2 separate regions of the Homo sapiens genome follow, and region 2 is linked to region 1. Evidence: fine-mapped QTL for protein levels in blood plasma. Region 1 holds a variant in brackets. A gene starts in the other region. All regions are shown on their reverse strands. Region 1 has its middle 6.0 kb from the start of ASGR2. Region 2 holds the start of ITGA11 (integrin subunit alpha 11).

Evidence for each region. PIP is the chance, under the fine-mapping model, that this variant and not a neighbour inherited with it causes the effect. Protein levels are from antibody-based Olink assays in UK Biobank. Linkage for the fine-mapping came from a reference panel and not from the study's own genotypes, which makes the PIPs less certain.
Region 2: ITGA11 starts here. The variant in region 1 is fine-mapped to the plasma level of the ITGA11 protein (UK Biobank, PIP 0.96).

The regions. Positions count from the first base shown.
Region 1 is chr17:7,115,621-7,126,003 of GRCh38, reverse strand. No RefSeq gene overlaps it. Among named protein-coding and RNA genes, the nearest start is that of ASGR2, 6.0 kb to the right of the region's middle. RefSeq lists a silencer at 4,063-4,162 and an enhancer at 10,244-10,383. The variant T/C (reference allele first, on the strand shown) is at 7,659.
Region 2 is chr15:68,427,454-68,438,038 of GRCh38, reverse strand. It overlaps ITGA11 (integrin subunit alpha 11), which reads left to right and starts at 5,876. Exons shown (of 30, transcript NM_001004439.2): 1 at 5,876-6,024. The coding sequence starts at 5,973. RefSeq lists a silencer at 3,875-4,169 and an enhancer at 6,716-7,475.

The DNA.
Region 1 (10,383 bases):
GATGGAGTCTGGCTGTCACCCAGGCTGGAGTGCAGTGGCACAATCTCAGCTCACTACAACCTCCGCCTCCTGGGTTCAAGCAATCCTCCTGCCTCAGCCTCCCAAGTAGCTGAGACTACAGGCGTGCACCACCATGCCCAGCTAATTTTTGTATTTTTAGTAGAGAAGGGGTTTCACCATTTTGGCCAGGCTGGTCTCGAACTCCTGACCTCAAGTGATCCACCCACCTCAGCCTCCCAAAGTGCTGGGATTACAGGCGTGTGCCACGGACAAAGTTGTTAACGTGTAGTGTCTGGTTTCACTCTGAGATTCCTGGAAGCTAAAATGAAAAAGGAAACACAATTACGGGATGCTTATTATCAGAGGGGAAAAAACGCCCTGGCTTTATTTGGGGGAACTAAGAGAATATGAAGTGTGAATTTTTTTTTTTTTGAGCTGGAGTCTTGCTCTGTCGCCCAGGCTGGAGTGCGGTGGCACAATCTCGGCTCACTGCAAGCTCCGCCTCCTGGGTTCACGCCATTCTCCTGCCTCAGCCTCCCAAGTAGCTGGGACTACAGGCACCCACCACCACGCCCGGCTAATTTTTTGTTTTCATATTTTTAGTAGAGACGGGGTTTCACCATGTTAGCCAGGATGGTCTCGATCTCCTGACCTTGTGATCCGCCCGCCACCACGCCCGGCTAATTTTATTTTGTATTTTTAGTAGAGACGGGGTTTTGCTGTGTTAGCCAGGATGGTCTCGGAAGTGTGAGTGTTATGAGTTGCTGCTGATGCTTGGAGCAGTGAAGGCCCCTGATACTTTCTGATGAGCATGAGCTAATGAATGGTGTTGTGTTTGTTTCAGAAACTAGAGGCCAGTTTCTAGATGAAGGCATTGGAATAGGAAACAAAGGCTTCATACAGCTTGGAGAAATGTTTTCTTTGTATTTATGTATCTATGTATCTGTCTATGTATTTATTTATATCTTTTAGAGACAGGGTCTTGCTTTGTCACCCAGGCTGGAGTGCAGTGGTGCAATCACGGCTCACTGCGCCTTGACCTCCTAAGCTCGAATGAGATGTTTTTTGAGATAGAGTCTTGCTCTGTCACCAGGCTGGAGTGCAGTGGCACCATCTTGGCTCACTGCAAACTCTACCTCCCGGGTTCAAGCAATTCCTCTGCCTCAGTGTCTCGAGCAGCTGGGATTACAGGCACCTGCCACTACGCCTGGCTAATTTTTTTTTTTTTTCAGTAGAGATGGGTTCACCATGTTGGCCAGGCTGGTCTCAAACTCCTGACCTCAGGTGATCCGCCCACCTCGGCCTCCCAAAGTGTTGGGATTACAGGGATGAGCCACTGCGCCCGGCCTGTTCTCTGGATTTATGTGGCAATATAAGAGGGAGCTGGGGCAGCGACTTGTCCTCTATGACATTTTGCTCTTGTAGTTTGCAGCCAAGCTTGTAGCACTTCTGCCTTCTTTAGAGTGTGCCCTGCTAAGGGGAGCCACAGTACTGCAGAGGCCTCGGCTCACTCTGGACCTGGCATCTGAGGCACTTCTTGCAGACCTCAATACCATTGAACTTGGCACCCCAAATAGCCCTGTCCCCCGCTCACGCCACCTGAACAGGGTAGGGATATTTGTGGCATTCCCTGGGGGTCCTGTTTGTTCCACACATAGGGCTCCTTCTGCCTCCCTCCACAACAGAGTCCCGGGCTGTTCTGCCCTTCGCTCACCCTTATCCACACTGCACCTTGCAGAGATGCCTCAGAGTTTGTGGCATGTGAGGGAAATCTTTTCTTAATTTCCAATAGTTATATGAATATTTTCTCTATTGAATTATTACTACTGTAATAATAGGGAACATATTGGGAAGTTGTGTGGAGAGAATGTATTAGTCAGGGTTCTCTAGAGGGACATACTAATAGGATAGATGTATATATGAAAGGGAGTTTATCAAGGAGTATTGACTCACACGAACATAAAGAGAAGTCCCACAATAGGGTGTCTGCAAGCTGAGAAGCAAGGAAGCCAGTCTAAGTCCCCAAATCTCCAAAGTAGGGAAGCTGACAATGCAGCCTTCAGTCTTTGGCCGAAGGCCTGAGGGCCCCTGGCAAACCACTGGTCCAAGAGTCCAAAAGCTGAAGAACTTGGAGTCCGATGTTCCAGCACGGGGCACAGATGGAGGCCGGAAGACTCAGCCAGTCTAGTCCTTCCATGTTCCTCTGCCTACATTTATCCTACCTGAGATGGGAGCTGATTAGACAGTGCTCACCCAGGTTGAGGGCAGGCTGCCTCTCCCTGTCCACTGACTCAAATGTTAATCTCCTTTGGCAACACCCTCACAGACACACCCAGGAACAATACTTTGCATCCTTCAATCCAGTCAAGTTGACACTCAGTAGTAACCATCACAGGGAAATACACAGGCTCAGGTATTCATCCTGGACTGGATGACGCCCTCCTTGTCTTCCTCTTGCCTCTCTGGCTGCACCTTCCCCTTCTCCTTTCCAGGTCCATGTGGGTGTTTTTCAGGCTCTGTTCTAGACCCTTCTCTCCGCTTCCCTGGCTTTGATTGCCTTTGTTGGTTCCCAGTCTCCGGCCCATCTATGTCCAACTGCCTTCTAGCCAGCTCCACCCGAATGCACCAACAGCACAAGAAACCCATGTCCCAAACAAAACTCCGCGACTCCTTGCCCTGCTGGCAACCAGCTCTCCCACGGGCTCCTTGGCCGATGAGTGGCTTCACCAGCCACCTGCTTGTTTCACCCCGAAAACTGGCTCTCCCGGGTTCCCCTCTCCTCTGCTTCCCACAGCCGATGTTTACAATGGTTGCTGCTAAGTCCACGCCTCTCCTGTGGTTGGGCTTCCGAGGGTTCTTGCTAACATCCTTTAGAATACAGGGACAGGGGCTGAGTGCGGTGGCTCACGCCTGTAATCCCAGAACTTTGGGGGCCGAGGCAGGTGGATCACCTGAGGTCAAGAGTTCCAGACCAGCCTGGCCAACGTCGCCAAACCCCATCTCTACTAAAAATACAAAAATTAGCTGGGTGTGGTGGCAGGTGCCTGTAGTCCCAGCTACTTGGGAGGCTGAGGCAGGAGAATCGCTTGAACCTGGGAGGAGGAGGTTGCAGTCACCTGAGATCCTGCCACTGCATGCCAGCCTGGGCGACAGAGCGAGATTCCATCTTAAATAAATAAATAAAAATATAATACAGAGGCAGGAAAGTACAATTACTGGTCAGCTTTCCTCGAACTAGATCCCTCCCAATGCCAGGTGACCATTGGACAAAGTGGAGAGGGGATTTATTAATATTCTACTGCTTATTTCCCAAGATGAGGATTAGCTCTTAGCCACTGCTGTCTTCCAAATGCAGTTACATCAGCATCTTTAGTAAAAAAACGAAAATGAAACGTTCACATTACATGTCTATGTAAATGTTATGTCCTGCAGAACCTAGTACTCTATTGTCATAACATTTCTCTTCTTGCATAGTTTCTTTTGCTTTTACTGGAGATATGCCAGTTATTCTAATCTTGCAATGTTTTCCTTAGGGCAGTTTTCTATTTCTTAAAATAAAAACTCTCTAAAATAAGATTCTTCTTTCTCAGGAGGACTTCCTTTGTGGCGTTCTTAGCCACAGTCAGTGTCTTGAGTGTTAACTTAATTCGAATTATTTGCTAAGTGTTATTCTAGCAGACTTACAAATCCCAGTTATTCCATCATGCCCATAGGAGAAGAGGAAAGGGCCAGTGCCCCTCTTCTGATTTTTAAACCGGCCCTATAGTTCCACAGACAGTTTTGGATAAACATAGAACTTGACCCTTCTGCCGTTAAAGCTTGAAACTCATATATATATATATGTTTATTTTTTTATTTTTTGAGATGGAGTCTTGCTCTGTTGCCCAGTCTGCAGTAGGGTGGCGTGATCTTGGCTCACCACAACCTCTGCCTCCCAGGTTCAAGTGATTCTCCTGCCTCAGCCTCCCGAGTAGCTGGGATTACAGGCGCCCACCACCACGCTCGGCTAATCTTTGTATTTTTAGTAGAGACGGGGTTTCACCCTGTTGGTTAGGCTAGTCTTGAACTCCTGACCTCGTGATCCACCGGCCTTGGCCTCCCAAAGTGCTGGGATTACAGGTGTGGGCCACTGTGCCCGGACGAAACTTATATTTGTTTGATTTGAGTTCCTTCCTCAGGAAAGTACCTTCAGTCCTCTCAAAAACGTATAGTAGGTCAGGAGTTCAAGACCAGCCTGACCAACAAGGTAAAACCCTGTCTCTACTAAAAATACAAAATTACCCGGGCGTGGTGGCGGGTGCCTGTAATCCCAGCTACTCAGGAGGCTGAGGCAGGAGAATTGCTTGAACCCAGGAGGCAGAGGTTGTGGTGAGCTGAGATCGTGCCACTGCACTCCAGCCTGGGTGACAGAGTAAGACTCCGTCTCAGAAAAAAAAAAGAAATGTATGGAAGAACTGAAACTCACCAGATCACGCACCAAATGCCTCCTTGCACCTCCCTAGTTCCTGTTTTCTGACACATTGTTACATTTCTTCCCTGCTATATAACCCCTGGTTTTAGTCAGTCCAGGAGATGGATTTGAGACAGCTGCCATCTCTTTGGCTGCAGCACCTGATTTAAAGCCTTCTTCCTTGGCACTACTCATCATCTCAGTGATTGGCTTTCTGTGTGCAGCAAAGCCGCAGGACTTAGACTGAACTCCTGATGTTTCGCTAACAATTTCTTTTTTTTGAGACAGAGTCTGGCTCTTTTCTGCCAGGCTGGAGTGTAGTGGCGCGATCTCGGCTCACTGCAATCTCTGCCTCCCGGGTTCAAGTGATTCTCCTGCCTCAGCCTCCCGAGTAGCTGGGACTACAGACACCCGCTACCACGCCTGGCTAATTTTTGGTATTTCTAGTAGAGTCAGGGTTTCACCGTGTTAGCCAGGATGGTCTCGATCTCCTGACCTCGTGATCCGCCCACCTCTGCCTCCCAAAGTGTTGGGATTACAGGCGTGAGCCACCACGCCCGGCCGAAAGTCAGCAGGAATTATAAGTGCCCACCTAGGTTTCCACAGTACATGAGAGAACAAGATGGGGAGTTAGTAAACGTTCTCACTTTGACGGCTTATCATAGGAGAGTCTCTACTGCTTCCTTAAACTCATGTTCTTTTTTTTTTTTTTAAAGACCGAGTTTCGCTCTTGTTGCCCAAGCTGGAGTGCAATGGCGCAATCTTGGCTCACCGCAACCTCTGCCTCCCGGGTTCAAGCGATTCTCCTGGCTCAGCTTCCTGAGTAGCTGGGATTACAGGCACCCACCACCACACCCAGCTAATTTTGTATTTTTAGTAGAGACAGGATTTCTCCATGTTGGTCAGGCTGATCTTGAATTCCCCACCTCAGGTGATCTGCCCGCCTTGGCCTCCCAAAGTGCTGGGATTACAGGCGAGAGCCACCATGCCCAGACCTTAAACTCATGTTCTTTATGGTGACTTGCATTTCCAAGGCCAGGTTCTGGAATTTCACCAGTTTGCATTATAAGAAAAAAAGTCAGCCTGTAGGCAAAAAATACAGAAAAAGCTGAATAAGATTTTCTTTCCTAATAATGAAAAAGGCTTATACTGAGATGTTCTTCTACATGTGTTGTTTTTGGATAATTTCCTCACTTTCTGGGGTAATTCCTCACATGGGAGTAGGAGATAAATAGTCTGAGAACTGGAATATCTGACAGTTCTGTAGCCTCCCCTCTCGTGCCATGGATCATTTGAGTCTACAATTCTAGGTTGAAAAAAATTTTCCTTGGAAGTTTGAAGGCATCATCCTGTTGTCTCTTCGTGTTCAATATAACAGCTGAAAAATGAAATCCATTCTGATTCTTGTTTCTTTGTAGGTGATTTACTCCCACCCCTGGTAGTTTTTGGAATTTTCTGTTTATCCCTGGTATTCTGAAATTTCATGGTGACACGCTTTGGGTCATTTTTGAATGAATGTGCTCGGCTGGGCTATTACTAGAATACCTAAATCTGGAGACTTATCCTTTTTAATTCTAAGTACCAGCCTTGTATTCTTTCTTTCATCTTTTTCTTCCTTTTCTTCCTCTTATTTATCTTCTAGAACTTCTATTAATTGGATGTTGGTTCTTTGAACATATTGTTTGTGTTATTTGGGGAGGTTTTATGGGGCTAATAAAAAAAAGAACCCTATCTTTTCCTCTTAAGTTTGAAATCAATTGAGAGCCAAGACACAGTAGACAGATGAGCGGATATCAAAATGTTAGCATAATTACTGATAAGCAACAAGGAGGATTTGACTTAAAACCTTAGATCAAAAAACCTTGTAATTAGTTCATCCAATAATTAAGCAGATGTATCCACCCAGTCACAGGCAGAGGAGGGCAAAGCAGGAGCAGCTCTGTGCCGCCTGGCAGAGAGTAGAATACAAGGTGTGCTTCTTGTGGGCAGAAAGACACCAAAGGGAGCCCCCCCAAGGGGCGGAGCCAAGCATGCCAATCAGTCAGTTTCCTCCCCTGAGGAAGAGTGGGTTAAGAAGGGGAGTCTGGGCGGGGCGCGGTGGCTCATGCCTGTAATCCCAGCGCTTTGGGAGGCCGAAGCGTGCGGATCACTTGAGGTCAGGAGTTCGAGACGAGCCTGGCCAACATGGTGAAACCCCATCTCTGCTAAAAATACAAAAATTAGCTGGGTGTGGTGGTGAGTGCCTGTAATCCCAGCTACTCAGGCGGCTGAGGCAGAAGAATCACTTGAACCCGGGAGGCGGAGGTTGCAGTGAGCCGAGATCGCGGCCACCGCACTCTAGCCTGGGCAACAAGAAGGAAACTCTGTCTCAAAAAAAAAAAGAAAGAAAGAAAAAAAAGAGAGAAAGGGAGTCTGGAGATTGTCTAGTTTCCCTAGTGGGAAATATATTCAGTAGCATGAGACCAGAGAAAAAATAATTTCTCCCAATTTAACTTTTATCATTTAAAAAAAAAAAACCTATGTCTTTTTTTTTTCCTGGAAGATTTTCTAAATTTTATGTTTCAGAGCTTCTATTAATTTTTCTGGAGTTAACAACATGTATATATTTTTTAACTTTCAAAAGGTCTCGTTTTCTGAACAAGTAGAACATACAGGAAATTCTGGCTTATCAACAAAGTGAATTCAGGAAAGCCAATAGAAAAACTGGTAAAGGATATGAAAAGGCAATTCATGCAGGAGGAAACCCAAATGATTAATAAATCGATGAAGAAATGTTCAAACCCACTGTTAGCCAGAAATGCAAAATAAAAGAACAAGGATATGGCATCAGCTTGGCAACAATTGCGATGTTAATAATATCAAGCGACAAAGCCAAAAAGAGAACCCTCGTATACTGCTGGTGGGAGTGTGAACTGGCAGAGCCATTCTGGAAAACAGTCTGGCAGTCCTGAGTGGAATTAGGTATGGCAATACTCTGCGAATGAGCAATACCATTCGGGGATATAGTTTCCTTCCTTCCTTCCTTCCTTCCTTCCTTCCTTCCTTCCTTCCTTCCTTCCTTCCTTCCTTCCTCCCTCCTTTCCTTCGTTTCTCTTTTCTTTTCTTTCATTCCTTTTTTTTTTTTTTTTTTTTTTTTGAGAAAGGGTCTTGCTGTTGCCCAGGCTGGAATGCTGTGGTGCGATCATAGTTCACTGCAGCCTTGAACTCC[T/C]GGCCTCAAGTGATCCTCCCAACTCCAGCTTCCCAAGGTGTTGGGATTACAGGCCTGAGCCACCATACCTGGCCTGGATACAGTTTCAAGAGAAATTCTCACCTAGGTCCACATGGGAACACGATGAGGACATCAGTCGTCATGTTAATTGTGATAGTTGTTGGCAACAACCTGAGTTCATTATTAGGGGAAATAAACTGTGATGGATACACACCATTGAATACTGTGCAGCAGTTCATAGCAACAAACCAGATAAACAAATAGCAATGTAACAATCCATTGTAACAAATAGCAATACAAATAGCTCTAAAAAATTTCTTGTTGAGTGAAAAAGATCAGAAACAAATGAGATATATGAAAGTTCTGTGTATGTAAATACAGAACAGATAGACATGCAAACCCCATCACATATTTTATAAGGGTACCTACATATTTAGTAATATATATTGTTTCAGCTATCTACCGATGCATAATAAACCACCCCAAAGCTCCAGTGGCTTAAACCAACTGTTTTTTCTTAAGATTCTCTGGGTCAGAAATTTGGGCAGGGCTAGGCTGGGCGGTCCACGGGGTATTGGTTGGAGTGAAACACTTGGATACAATCAGCTGGTGACTGGGCTGCCCTGGAAACTCCCAGAAGACTTTGCTCACATGTCTGGGGCCTCAGTGCACCTCTGTGTGGCCTCTTTCTCTCTCCATGTGCTGTCTTATCCCCCAGGACTCTCTCTGGCAGGATAGTTGGACTTCCTCATAGCATGGTGACTGACTTCCAAGATTGAAAACTGAAGCTACCAGGTTTCTTGAGGTCCAGGCCCAGAACTGGCAGAGTGTCATTTCTAGTGCTTTCTGTTGGTCAAGGCAAGTCACAGGGCCAGCCCAGACTCAAGGGGAGGGGAAACAGACTCTACCCCTGGCTGAGTGGTGTGACTTGCACATGTGGTGAGGGGAGAAATTGATGGGCACCATCTGTGGGGACTGTCAGGGCACTCAGACTTCTGGCTGCCTATAGAGAGTAGAGAGTATAGAATTAGTGAGGGGAAACAGGATGGGAGCTAGGGAAGAACGAAACAGGACAAAGGTTTAGCTCAGACCTCTGAGGAAGACCTAGTGTCATGAAGTAAGGAATATGACCAATCTAACCTTTGTGTCTGAGGTACAAATAAACCCCAAATCAAAATCAACCAAATAAGGCCGGGCGCGATGGCTCACGCCTATAATCCCAGCACTTTGGGAGTTTGAGATGGGCGGATCACCTGAGGTCAGGAGTTCAAGACCAGCCTGGCCAACATGGTGAAAATACAAATAATTAGCCGGGCGTGGTGGTGCATGCCTGTAATCCCAGCTACTCAGGAGGCTGAGGCAGGAGAATCACTTGAACCCGGGAGGTGGAGGTTGCAGTGAGCTGAGATCGCGCCATTGCATTCCAGCCTGGGTGACAAGAGTGAAACTCTGTCTCAAAAAAAAAAAAAAAAAAAATCAATCAAAGAAAATAGGATTCCATAACCCAAAACAGAAAACCTCCAACAATATGGAAACTTCAGAAATAGTCCAAGTACATGTTAACTTCTAAGTTAAAATGATTTTCAAATAGGGAGAAAGAGAAGGACGCAGATGAGTCTGGCTTTCTCTGTCCCTTCTCTCCCTGTAGTGCCGTGAGTGGGGGTGTAAGTGACAAGCCCTGAAACGTGGAATTGGTTCAGTCAAAGGGGTGGCCAATGAGGATGGCCCCATCCCTGGTTGGCAGTTGGCAAAGCTTGACATGCAGTAGACAATCCATCTGTGAAGCTCTTACCTGTATCTCAGGACTAAATCCACATGCCCCTTAAGATGGGGGCTTCACAGCAGTGTTGTTCAGACTTTGAGTTGTGACCCATTAATGGACTGGGAAACTCAACAGAAGGCACGTAGTAAGGTGAGCATTGTCCCATCAAACTTTAGTGTCAACCGTGTATTTCCAAACGCATTATTCTATTCACTCACTCACTCAGTAGATACTTGTTGAGCAGCTACTGTGTGGCAGGCACTGGGGATCCAGGAGAAAGTAACACATACAAATGCACCTGTGTGTGCGGGTGCTTGTGTGTATGTTCTGGATCACAGCATGAAATTCGTCTCTCGCTGTGGGCTGCAGTCAGAGAGCCCAGCGGCTGCTGCTGCCTGGTGGCTGGGTGGGAATGTCAGGGTACTGGGGGGGTGGCTACTTCCCATGTGGGTCAGCAAGTTACAAGAACAGAAAAGGCCTCTGTTTGAATTCCTTTTCGGCACCCGGGGAAACGAGCAGCTTTATAAGAAACCCTGCCCGTAGCCATCCGCCCAAGTTTGGTGAGGGTCAGAAAATCATGCACAAAAACTGTGTTTTCTTTCCCGAGCTATTGTTAGCGCAAGTGTAGACAGTCAGCCACGTTCCTTGCTTCATGGAAGCCAGTCTTCCTCGTAGGACCATGAAGACCTTTTCTTTTCTTTTTCTTTCTTTCTTTTTTTTTTCTTTGAGATGGAGTTTCTCTCTTGTTGCCCAGGCTGGAGTGCAATGGCGCAATCTTGGCTAATGCAACCTCCGCCTCCCAGGTTCAATCGATTCTCCTGCCTCAGCGTCCTGAGTAGCTGGGATTACAGGCCCCTGCCACCACGCCCGGCTAATTTTTGTATTTTAGTAGAGACAGAGTTTCACCATGTTGGCCAGGCTGGTCTCGAACTCCTGACCTCAGGTGATCCACCCACGTCGGCT
Region 2 (10,585 bases), not on the chromosome of region 1:
CATGGCTTCTCTCAGACATCTCAGCCCAGCCCAGGACCAGGATGGAAGTCCTGGAAACCCCCTGGGTGGTGCTGAGGACTAAACGAAATGATGCAAGAGTTGCAGTTAGCCCATATTAACTTCTCAGTTAAAGGTATTCTTCACATCGCTGTAGTGACATTCAATTCTGATGTGGCTCTTCCAGTCCGGTCCAATGTCAAGGGTTTAGCCCAGCTAAACCCCATCAGAAATGACCTCTCAGCTGGAACATCCACTGACACCTCTAGACTTTTAAAGCAATTTCTATTCTCTCATACCCTTTGACATACTTTTTCTTCAAAGAGATGTTTCCTTATCCATCCTGCGTGTCTGTCTGTGCTGTGGCCATGCTCCTTCCCTTTGATATCTTTACTGCAAATGCTGTATATACTTGTGGCTTGAGAAATGGAGATCACAAAATAACTTTCTAGATTCAGTATAGGTTGTGTACAGGGCTTGATCCTTGTAGAAATTCCAGTCACTGACCCGCAGGCACAGGATTAGGAAGAATGGCAGCATCCACCCGGCTCTAACATTTCGGATTAGACTTTGAAGCGGAAAGTGGCTGGGACAAACATACACTACTGGTGTAAACACACTTCTTCAAAGTTAACCTGCTTCACTTTGTTGGTGGGGATGAGACCTGGCATGACAAATAAAAACCAAGGGACACCCTCTAAGCACACTTGTGCATGACAAATGCAGCCACTTCCTATCACAGAAGTCATTGGTCCAAAACGGTGGCATGCATCATTCAAACAGCAGATAACAAGGCAATCTGGTGGCTTTTTTTTTTTACTTTTTTTTTTCCTTTTCCCTTTGGGATTTATTATATCACTTTTTGGCAGAAGATGTGCCTTCTCAGTAACTGTAAGCTTGCTTACGCTTATCTTTGAAAAAAAGTTTGCATTTCCTAAGCACAAACCAACTGATAGTACAGAGAGGAGGTGGGATCCATGAGGGGGACCGCAAGGGCAGAAAGGAGCCTAGAAGCCAGGGAGTGCCTCAAGGTGGAGCCCCCAGGCTGATTATGGAGACTGGCTGCATTGGAGGTACCTGGGAGCAGGACAGAGAAGGGTGGAGAGAAATAACCAGAGAGTGGGAGAGAGTGGGGAGTATTGGAAAAGAAAGTTGGAGAAAGTGAGACAGAAGGCCCAAGATAGACACAGGGAGACCAGTTCATCCCAGTTTGTCAGAGATTGTCCCCCAGTGTTGACACTGAAGTCCTATATTCTAGAAAACCTCTTAGTCCCAGGCAAACCAGGACAATTGATCACCCAAGGTCAAAGTGGTGAAAAACTCAGAGAAAGAGTAGAAAGAGAGAGGCACCTCTCTGAAATGAGTGCAGATCAGGGCACCCCAATAACTTTTCTGGAAGAAGAGTGCATTGTGGCCAGGCATGGTGGCTCCTGCCTATAATCCCAGCATTTTGGGAGGCCAAGGCAGGTGGATCACTTGAGGTCAGAAGTTGGAGACCAGCCTGGCCAACATGGTGAAACCCTATCTCTACTTAAAAAAAAAAAAAAGATACAGACACACACACACACACACACACAAATCAGCCAGGCATGGTGGCGGGCGCCTGTAATCCCAGCTACTTGGGGAGCTGAGGCAGGAGAATCACTTGAACCCAGGAGGAAGAGGTTGCAGTGAGCTGAGATTGCACCACTGCACTCCAGCCTGGGTGACAGAGCAAGACTCCATCTCAAAAAAAAAAAAAAAAAAAAAGCATTGGTCCTAACTGAGCCAAGGCCTCTGTCATCAGTACTCCAGACCACTGCTCGTTCTCCCTCCATAGAGAAGCCAAGGTCCTCCCAGAGGAGCATGCTCAGACTGAAATCTTGGGAGCCACAGAAGTTGCCAATAGGACCTGTCTCTGAGCTGACCATGCTCATGCAGTCTTGGCCTGAAATACCCGCTCCCTCCACCCAGTTGGGATGTTGGGATTAATACTCAATCTGCTTTCAGAATGCTGGGTTCCAATCTCAGTTCTGCCTCATAGATGATGTGGAATCTTGCGTGAATCTATTGCTACTTTGAGCTTAGATTTTTTAGTAACCATGGATTTGTCTGTCCAGTATACTTTGCCATCCCACTTTTTCTGGTTCCTTTAGGAAAGTCCTCTCCTGTAATATGTGGTTTTGATGGGGCTGTCAGTCATGGCGCCTTTCTCTTCCCAAGTCATGGGGCTGGGTGTGTGTCCCAAACTGAGCTAATTATAGCACCATATCCTCCAGACACTAGGACTGGTTCAGGGGTGGGCATGAACCAAAGCCCTAGACTTTTCTGCTGGATCTACTAAAGGAAGGCTGTCTCTCTCCCTTCAGAATCTATGAAGTATAAGCTTGGGACTGCTAGACAGTCAGAGAAACTCTTCTGCTGCAGGAAAGGAAAATGGAGTGAAGCAAAACTAAGAGAAGACAGAGAGAGAGCAGTAACATTGATTTGAGACCCTTGATCCAGCCACACCTGCAGACAGAACACCTTTGCACTTCCTAGTTACATGACCTTTTACATTCTATTTTCTGCTTCAGTTTGATTGTGTTGAATTTCTGTCACTTGCAAGTGAAAGAATCTTCAACTATACAATCTCTTTACTATAAAAAATAAATACAATTTTGTACAAGATGAGTATTAAATTAGATCATGGATATGAAAGGGATTTCAAAAATAGTAAAACACTATACATAGCACTTGTACATTGTTGGTAGGAATCTAAAATGATGTAGCAACTGTGGAAAATAGTTTGGCAGTTCCTCAAATGATTAAACATAAAATTACTATATGATCAGCAATTCCACTCCTAGGTGTATACCCAAGAGAACTGAAAACATACATTCATACAAAAACTTGTATGAACATTATGCTAACATTATGCTATGTTAATGGATGGTAGAACTGCTACCAGCAAGACCGGCAGCACAAGTGTTCATAGCCACATTATTCACAATAACCTAAAGTGGAAACACCTAAATAAGCCTCACCTGATGAATGGATAAACAAAAGGGGGTAGATCCATACAATGGAATGTTACTTGGCAATAAAAAGGAATGAAATACTGATACATGTTGCAACATGGATGAACCTTGGAAACATCATGCTAAGGGAAAGAAGCCAGACTCAAAAGGTCACGTATTATATGATTTCATTTATATGCAACGTCCAGAATAGGCAAATCCATAGAAATAGATTTGTGGTTGCCAGGGACTGGTGGGAAGGAATGGGGAGTGACTGCTCATGGTTACAGGGCTTCTTTTTGGGGTGATAAAAATATTGTGAAATTAGTGAGGATGATTTTACAATCTTGTGAATATACTAACAACTACTGGATTCTATGGCACAGTTTATGGCATGTGAATAAATAAATCAGTTAAAACACTGTGTACATGTAAAGAGTTATTATTATTATTCAACAGAAATCACAGCTTTCATAAAGCCCTTCACCAAATTCTCTGCAGTTCTCCAGCCTTAGAGTCTGGATTGTGCACTTGTCACTCATATGCTGCTGCCTTGGGTGTGATTTAAATAATGTTTAATAGTGATGAAATAATAAATGGTTTTAAATAGATTAATAAATAACAGATTATGATTAAATAAATACATGGTTATGTCTTGTCTCCTCAGCTCCATCACCAGCTGCCCTAGTGTGGGGTTCTCCTTCCGTGTGTCCTACAGAGCACAGGGGCACAGTAGGCACTCTGTAGGATCTGTTGAAAGAACAAATGAGGGCACACCTCTCCCCTCACCCTCCCACATTACACAAAAGCACACAGAGTGATCCTCAGGACCCCCATTCCCCAGGCACCTGTGAGGACGGTGAAGGTGAATGAATGGTAGAATTGTTACCAGCGAGACCAGCAGCAGCGCAGCTAGGACAGCCACTACAGTGCGCCCCTTCAGCAAGCAGCATGCAGACTCTGAGCACAAGCTGCAGACCACCCACACGTCAGAGGTGCCTGGGGCACCCACCAGCATGCCCTGATCCTTGGGGAATTTGCATTCTTTGCACGTGCTCCAGGTCGTTCTGATGCACCTGGAGATTTGTGCAAGGCAGGAATGTGGGCTGCAGCCCATTCCCTAGCTGTAGGGGTGTTCTACATTCAACTCAGCTGGCTTAAACTCAACTCAGTGAAGAGGACTCACTGTCGTATAACTGATAAGTCCCAAGGGGAGTGGGGTTAAGGGGTGGCTTCATTCAGGAGTTCAACAAGATCCTCCATTCTGTCATCCAGTGTCCACCTCATCTCAAGGCCAGATCCTCCTTCCCTACCCTGACCCTGTCAACTTCTGAGCCTACAAAGTTCCTTGTCCCAGGCTGGGAGAGGAGGCAGGAGTGGGAGAGGTGAGGAGAGAGAGTTAGTTCATTTGTTTGTTTGTTCTAGGGGCTCTTTTAGAAAGGCAAGAAAGCTTGCTTCCCAAAAAAACTTTTTCTTTTGTCATATTGCCCTTTCTGAAACGATGGGCTGGGAAGGGCAACATACTGATTCATTTCAGCCTGAACCGCATGCCTCCTTACACACACACACACACACACACACACACCAGGGACGGAATCACCTTCCCCGAGTCTGTGGCTGAATGGGTGAGGTGAAGATGAAGTAAAACCCAGATAGCCAACCGAAAGATAGTGAGGTTGGGAGACGAGCACAAGCCCACTTCACTTATGTGAACCTGGGTCTTCTCAAACTCCAGCTCATCTTCAGGGGCCCTGACTGAACATCACCTCCTCTGGGAAGCCCTTCCAATACCTCCCAGATAGAAAACTCTATCCTTTGTGCACCCACACACCACCTGTACTCACCCATCCATCCACCCGCCCACCTACTTTGTTCCTGGGTGTTAGGGGCTGAGTACTCCATTGTGAACCAGAGATTTCTACCCTGATGGTGTTTTCAGTCTGCACAGGAGAGAAAAGTTAAATGATCACACCAATTGATGCCTTGCTTCTCTACTAAGCACAATGAAGAGAAATGAGGGAGAGCGGGCTGGGGAATATCAGCATGTGTCTGGGACTCAACCTGGTGGGGACGGGAAGAGGGGGTGAAGGAAGCCTTTCCTGAGAAAGTGGGGGAAGGGCGCTCTGCTGTGGCTTTCCCTGCATCTTGGCCTTCCTACCCTCTGCCTCGGCTTCCTCCATTGCTGGAAAAGCCTCCACAAGCGCGGTGGAGGTCCGGGGCCTGGATTTAAAGCTCTTGAGATAAATGTGCATTGAATTTAACTACCAGTGATTAGAAGAGGGAAAGAAGGTGGCAGGGTTACAAAGAAGAGCTTCACGTTAGGTTAAGAGGGGGTGCACGGTGTCCCTGGGTGCTTTGGAATGCCTCAGGTGTGGAGGCTCAGGGAGTGGCAGTGGAGGCGAATCTGCATGTATTCCAGGGTCAGAAGAAACACTAGCCTCTACAATTCAAGCCGCAGGGTGCAGGGAGACACGGGGATGTCTTAGAATGGACCTTTGAGGGACATCCACTCACTTGGCCAAGGGAGACCTGCGTTCCAGCAGGTGTTCCTGAGCCAGCTTGGGTACCCTCTGAGTTTTGTGAATCTCTTTTCACTGGGAAATGGGAATAAAAACCACTTTTCCTGAACAGAATCTGACTGAGGCGGTGCGGTGCTACACTGGTGAGGGGGTTCCCAGGAGCGGTTCTCTGGAGTTTTCTCCAGAGGCTGACGTGGGGTTGGCGGAGAAGGAGCGCTGCACAGGCGCGTCGAGGCAGCGCGCCGCCTGCCCAGGTGGCAGAGCGGCCGAGACTGGCCCAGAGCCCGAGCCGGAGTGGTGTCCGGCGCCCCTCCCCTCCGCTCGAGCCCTCCCACTTCCTCTGAATGAGCCGCAGCTGTCAGGGAGCCCGGCGCCCCGCGCAGTGCAGGCTGCAGGCGCCGCGCCGAGGAGGCTGCCGCTCTGGCTTGCCGCCCCCCGCCGCCGCTGCACACCGGACCCAGCCGCCGTGCCGCGGGCCATGGACCTGCCCAGGGGCCTGGTGGTGGCCTGGGCGCTCAGCCTGTGGCCAGGTAGGTGCCCACCCTCTGCCTCCCCTTGCCTCTCGGAGTCCCTCCCTGGGCCCTCGGGGCTTGGATCCAGCGGCCAGGATCGGGACGCGACCCTCCTCCCAGGGTCAGACCTCAGCTGCTCTTGGGGACGTGGGTCCCCCAGGGACTGGCCCCAGTCTAGCGGTTCAGTCAAGTTTCGCTAAAGAGGGAGGTGCGAAGGCTATTGAAAGCCGGGACTCTTTGGTGTGTTTGGGAAGAGTTGAAGAGGCTTGAGTTGAAAAGCTCCCAGATCTGGTGGCCCTCCTGGGCGCCTTAGGTGCCTCCAAGGCCCATGCCGGGGTTCCCGCACGGCTGCCAGGGGCACTCGGGTGTCCCGGGAGCGCCGAGGGCGCACGGCCCCGGCTGGGGAAGGGAATCAGCGCCAAGAGAGTGTGCCCTGGCTGCCCTCCTGCCTGGCTCCGGGGAAGCATCTCAAAGTTTGGAGAGCCGGGCGCGGCGGCCCCGGAGGGCTGAAGGGTGGGGGTGAGGGCTGCGCAGAGTGCCTCCGGCCAAAGACAGAGCAAAGCCCCGGGGCGATGGCCGGTAGGCGGGGGCTAGCTCTCGTCTGCCCGGCCAGCAGCGGCGGGACACAGTCGCGCAGCGCAGGACCCCCGAAACGTTACCTGACACCCGGGGTAGGGACCCGGCATTGCCTCCCAACCCGCGCTCGGAATTATGCAATTATTCAATAATCTGGGGAAAGCCGCCGTCGCCTAGACGCGCGCCGCCGCCTAATGCACTCCAGGTGTCGGGGCGCGGCAGGAACCTCCGGCCCGAGGGGCGCGCGGCTGGGAGCGGGAAGCCAGCCCTGAGCTCTCCGCCCTAGGGTACCCTGGCCCCGGCCGTCCCACACCGGGCTCCCCGGCTCCACCCTCCACGCGGGGCGGCTGCCAGTGATGCTGTTCTGCGGAAGACGGCCAAGTGCTCCGGCAAGGGCCAGCGCCTCGGTTACTGGCCGGGTGTGGGCGCTCAACCTTGCCTCCCCTTCTGCGTGGGCTCCAGGCCCGAGCTGGGGCCAGTAGTGGGGGTCAGATGCGGTGGTAGTGGGAGAGGTGCCCTCAGGGAGCTCAGGTGGAGACCCCTATCCCGCAGCCGCTTGCCCCAGTCCCCGGGTACCACGCGAAGCAAGTCCACCCTCCTGTCGGCCTACAGAGGAGCTTCTCAGAGGGCCCATGGTTGAAAGGGCCTCTGGCTAGTGGAATCCTAGAGTCACAGTTTAAAACAATCATTGATACATTGAGTTGTGGGGGCTTGGAAGGGAGAGCAGGGGAAGAACTGCCACCAGGCCAATATGCAACTAGAAGCCAGCTGCGGGAGGAGGCCAAGCCCATTTAGGTGTGTTTAGACAGGAGGGGAGAATCTTCTCCAGGAACTGTCCTCATATCACTAGGAGATCCAGCCACAAGAAAAGAGACGCACTCCTGTGTGACTCCAGATAGGTGGCTGCATCAGAACCTTGGGAAGGAGTGGCTGCCTTAGGGGCTAGGGACAGCCTGGACCTCAGGAAGCTAAGAGCAATGGCTTTGGAATCAGACCTGGCTTCCACTTCTGGCTCTGCACCCTGCTAGCTGTTCAATCTTGGACTGGTTATGCGACCTTTCCAACAGGTTTCCTTATGTGAAGAATGGAGACACAAATTCCGTGTCCTGTAAAGTTGTCAGGATGCACTAAGGCACTGTAAGAAAGGCCCTTAACACAGGGCTGGGTGCACAGTAGGCTTTAATCAATGGTTGTTAATGTTGTTGCTACTCAAGGAGGAGGGGGCAGAGAATGACATTAAAGGACCTCTGAAGACACAGGATTTGTGACTCAGAGCTCCGCTTATATGGCGAAAACCACTCCTGAGTTATGTCTGGTCAGTTGCATTCTTGAAATATGGGATTCATTAAACATATCAATCAATGTTGGAACAATGACATCTGCTTGCAAGGAGCTGGGGGTGGGGCCCTAGCGTGTGTGCAATCTGGGTCCTGCCTGTAACTGAGAATAAGCCAAGGCCAGGGAAAGCTAAACAGAGGCACCAGGGAGTGAATGGCTTGGGGAAACCAAGGGCTGGGTGTTCAAACAAGAGAAGTTCAATTTCAGCCAGATAAGCAAGGAAGGCTTCCTGGAGGAGGAGATATCATTTGAACTGGCCCTGGAAAAGTGTGTAGAGTGTGCATGGGCCTGAAAGTGGGAATGTTCATATTTTGGAGTATTATTTTCTGAGACTAGTTAAAGAAGATGATGAATATTTTAAAACCACTCTGGTCAGTGTGGACTTTGAAGACTAGAAGGGTCTCAGGGATCATTGGGTTCACTCCTCAGGCTCCAGGACAGGACTGATGTTGATACCTCATCCATGCATCACATGAATTCAATGTGAGGATTACCAGGAAGCTTGTCTACTGGTGATGGCAGTTTGGCTGGGCAGGGAACCTGTCAGAGGCCAAGTTGAGGGTGAGACCTCAGAGCATCTACTCTCCCAGAGCTCCAGCTGCAGGCTGGACAGCGTGATGGGGTAGACAAAACTAACAGGAAAGCCTAAAAAAAAAGTAATCAAGTCCAAAGAGAGAGATCCATTGACCAGAGCTTTACAGTCATAACCTATCTGTAGGAAGGGTGATGATTCTTAGAAGCATAATCTTTGCTGAGCACCTGTTATCTGCCAGGCCCCATAAAGACACAAAGTGAGATCAGACACAGCGTAAGGGTGGAGGCCCTGGAGTTTCACTGCCTGGGATTGGCCTAGCCCCTGCCGGTTAGGGCTCTGTGCTCTTGGCAAGTTACTCCATGGCTCTGTGCCTCAGTTTCCTCACCTACAAAGTGGGGGTAATAATAGAACTTAGAGTTATCACAAAGATTAATGCTTAGAAAGTGCCAGGCATGTATTAAGCACTCAAGGAGGTTGTCTTCTCCAACATCATCAGCAGCAGCAGTAGCACTCAAGATATTGACTATTCAGGATCTAAGGACACAGAGATATAACTTTCAAACTCAAGTTCTCAAGAGAAGTTTAGAGGAAGTACATTGAAGAATCAGAGGAGACATACATGCCAGGGCCCCAAATGAGTGAAGACTTTCCTAGTCCCTCCCGCAAAGCCCTGGCCCAAACTCTTGATCATAATAAGAACTCAGGGTTGTTGTTTTGTTTGTTTGTTTACCATCGGGGCTGTCTTGAAGTCAGTATGCTCTTGATGTGGGTGTATTGTGGTGTGGAAAAGGAGAAGGCCCATACCATGCAACATGGCCCTTGTGGGTAGGGGTCCTACCCAACAGAAAGCAACCTGTGGAAAAGCACAGTGCTAGACACCACAGGTGTACAAAGGCTCCAGAGGTCCAAGACTTGCTCCCAGCCTCTCCTTCCCAGTGGAGAGCAGGGAAGAAGGGAAAGTTTGTCACTTTGCCACCCCATTGCCCACTTTGACAGCCAAGCCCCTCAGCTGCCATTAGCTGAGGAGCTTCTGGATCTTTCCATATCACAAGCAGACCCTGGAGTCTCACTCTTTTTCTGCTTACTCACCATGACCCCATCTCTACCCCACAGTGGACCCCCAGAGAGGGGATGTCTATCTCCATGCTCTTCCCACCATTCCCAGCCCATCCACACAGGGCTGTGAGCCCTGGAAGAACTCAGACAGTATCTTACCTCTCAACCTTGCCCTCTCTGAACCTCTTTTTCCACCCTCCTGTAGTGGGGAGCTCTTCCTTCTTCTAACAGCAGGGACCTTCCCTTGCATTCTCCCTCCCTTCCACCAACACCCCCAGCTCCTATCACTTAGGATAAAAATATGTTCTAAGCTGAGCTGGCTTTGCTCTTGCTATGCAGAAGGGAATTTGGGGAATTTTAAAAGCCCCTGTTTCTTCTCCACAATGCCTGACTTTGGGTGTTATTGTCTCACCATGGGCTTCCAGAGCTTACTTTGGGGGTCAAAGTCGAACATTGTTCTAGGATCCATCATAACCCTCCCCAGGCAGTGATGGGCTCTGGCTGACTCAGGGAAGGTCAGCTACAAAATGAGCCTTAAAAATCCTCTAATATGGTTCAAAAATGGTATCTCTGCTGATCCTCATCACTGAAGTCCCCTTCCAGGCCCACCCACTCCCCACCAACTGTATGTAGGCTACCACCAAGGATTCATAGCCATTTGGAACTTTTCCCTAAGCAGCTGTGAGCTCCAAAGACACCCACACATCTTCAGCATGGAGTGCTTTCTATAGGAGCTGTGGTCCAAGGGCGACCCTCCACAACCCCATCATGCAGATCCTAACTGTGTGAATTCTTTGTCAAATGCCCATTAAGTTTGTTACCACTGACAGGAGAAGGAGAGGAGGAGACTGGTGCTGGTCATCTTGTAAATCTAAAATAAGTGAGCTGCAAAAAAATTCCATGGAGAGTTTTCATACTATATACTTAAGATCTGAGTCACACGACGTGTGAAATCCCACCTGGAGGAAAAAGTCAGTGAGGCCAAACCCCCTCCCTGCTGCCTCTCACTTCCTCCTTCACTGAAGCACTCACCAAGCAGCAGAAATAATTGGCATGTGCATGGGCTTAGGACCT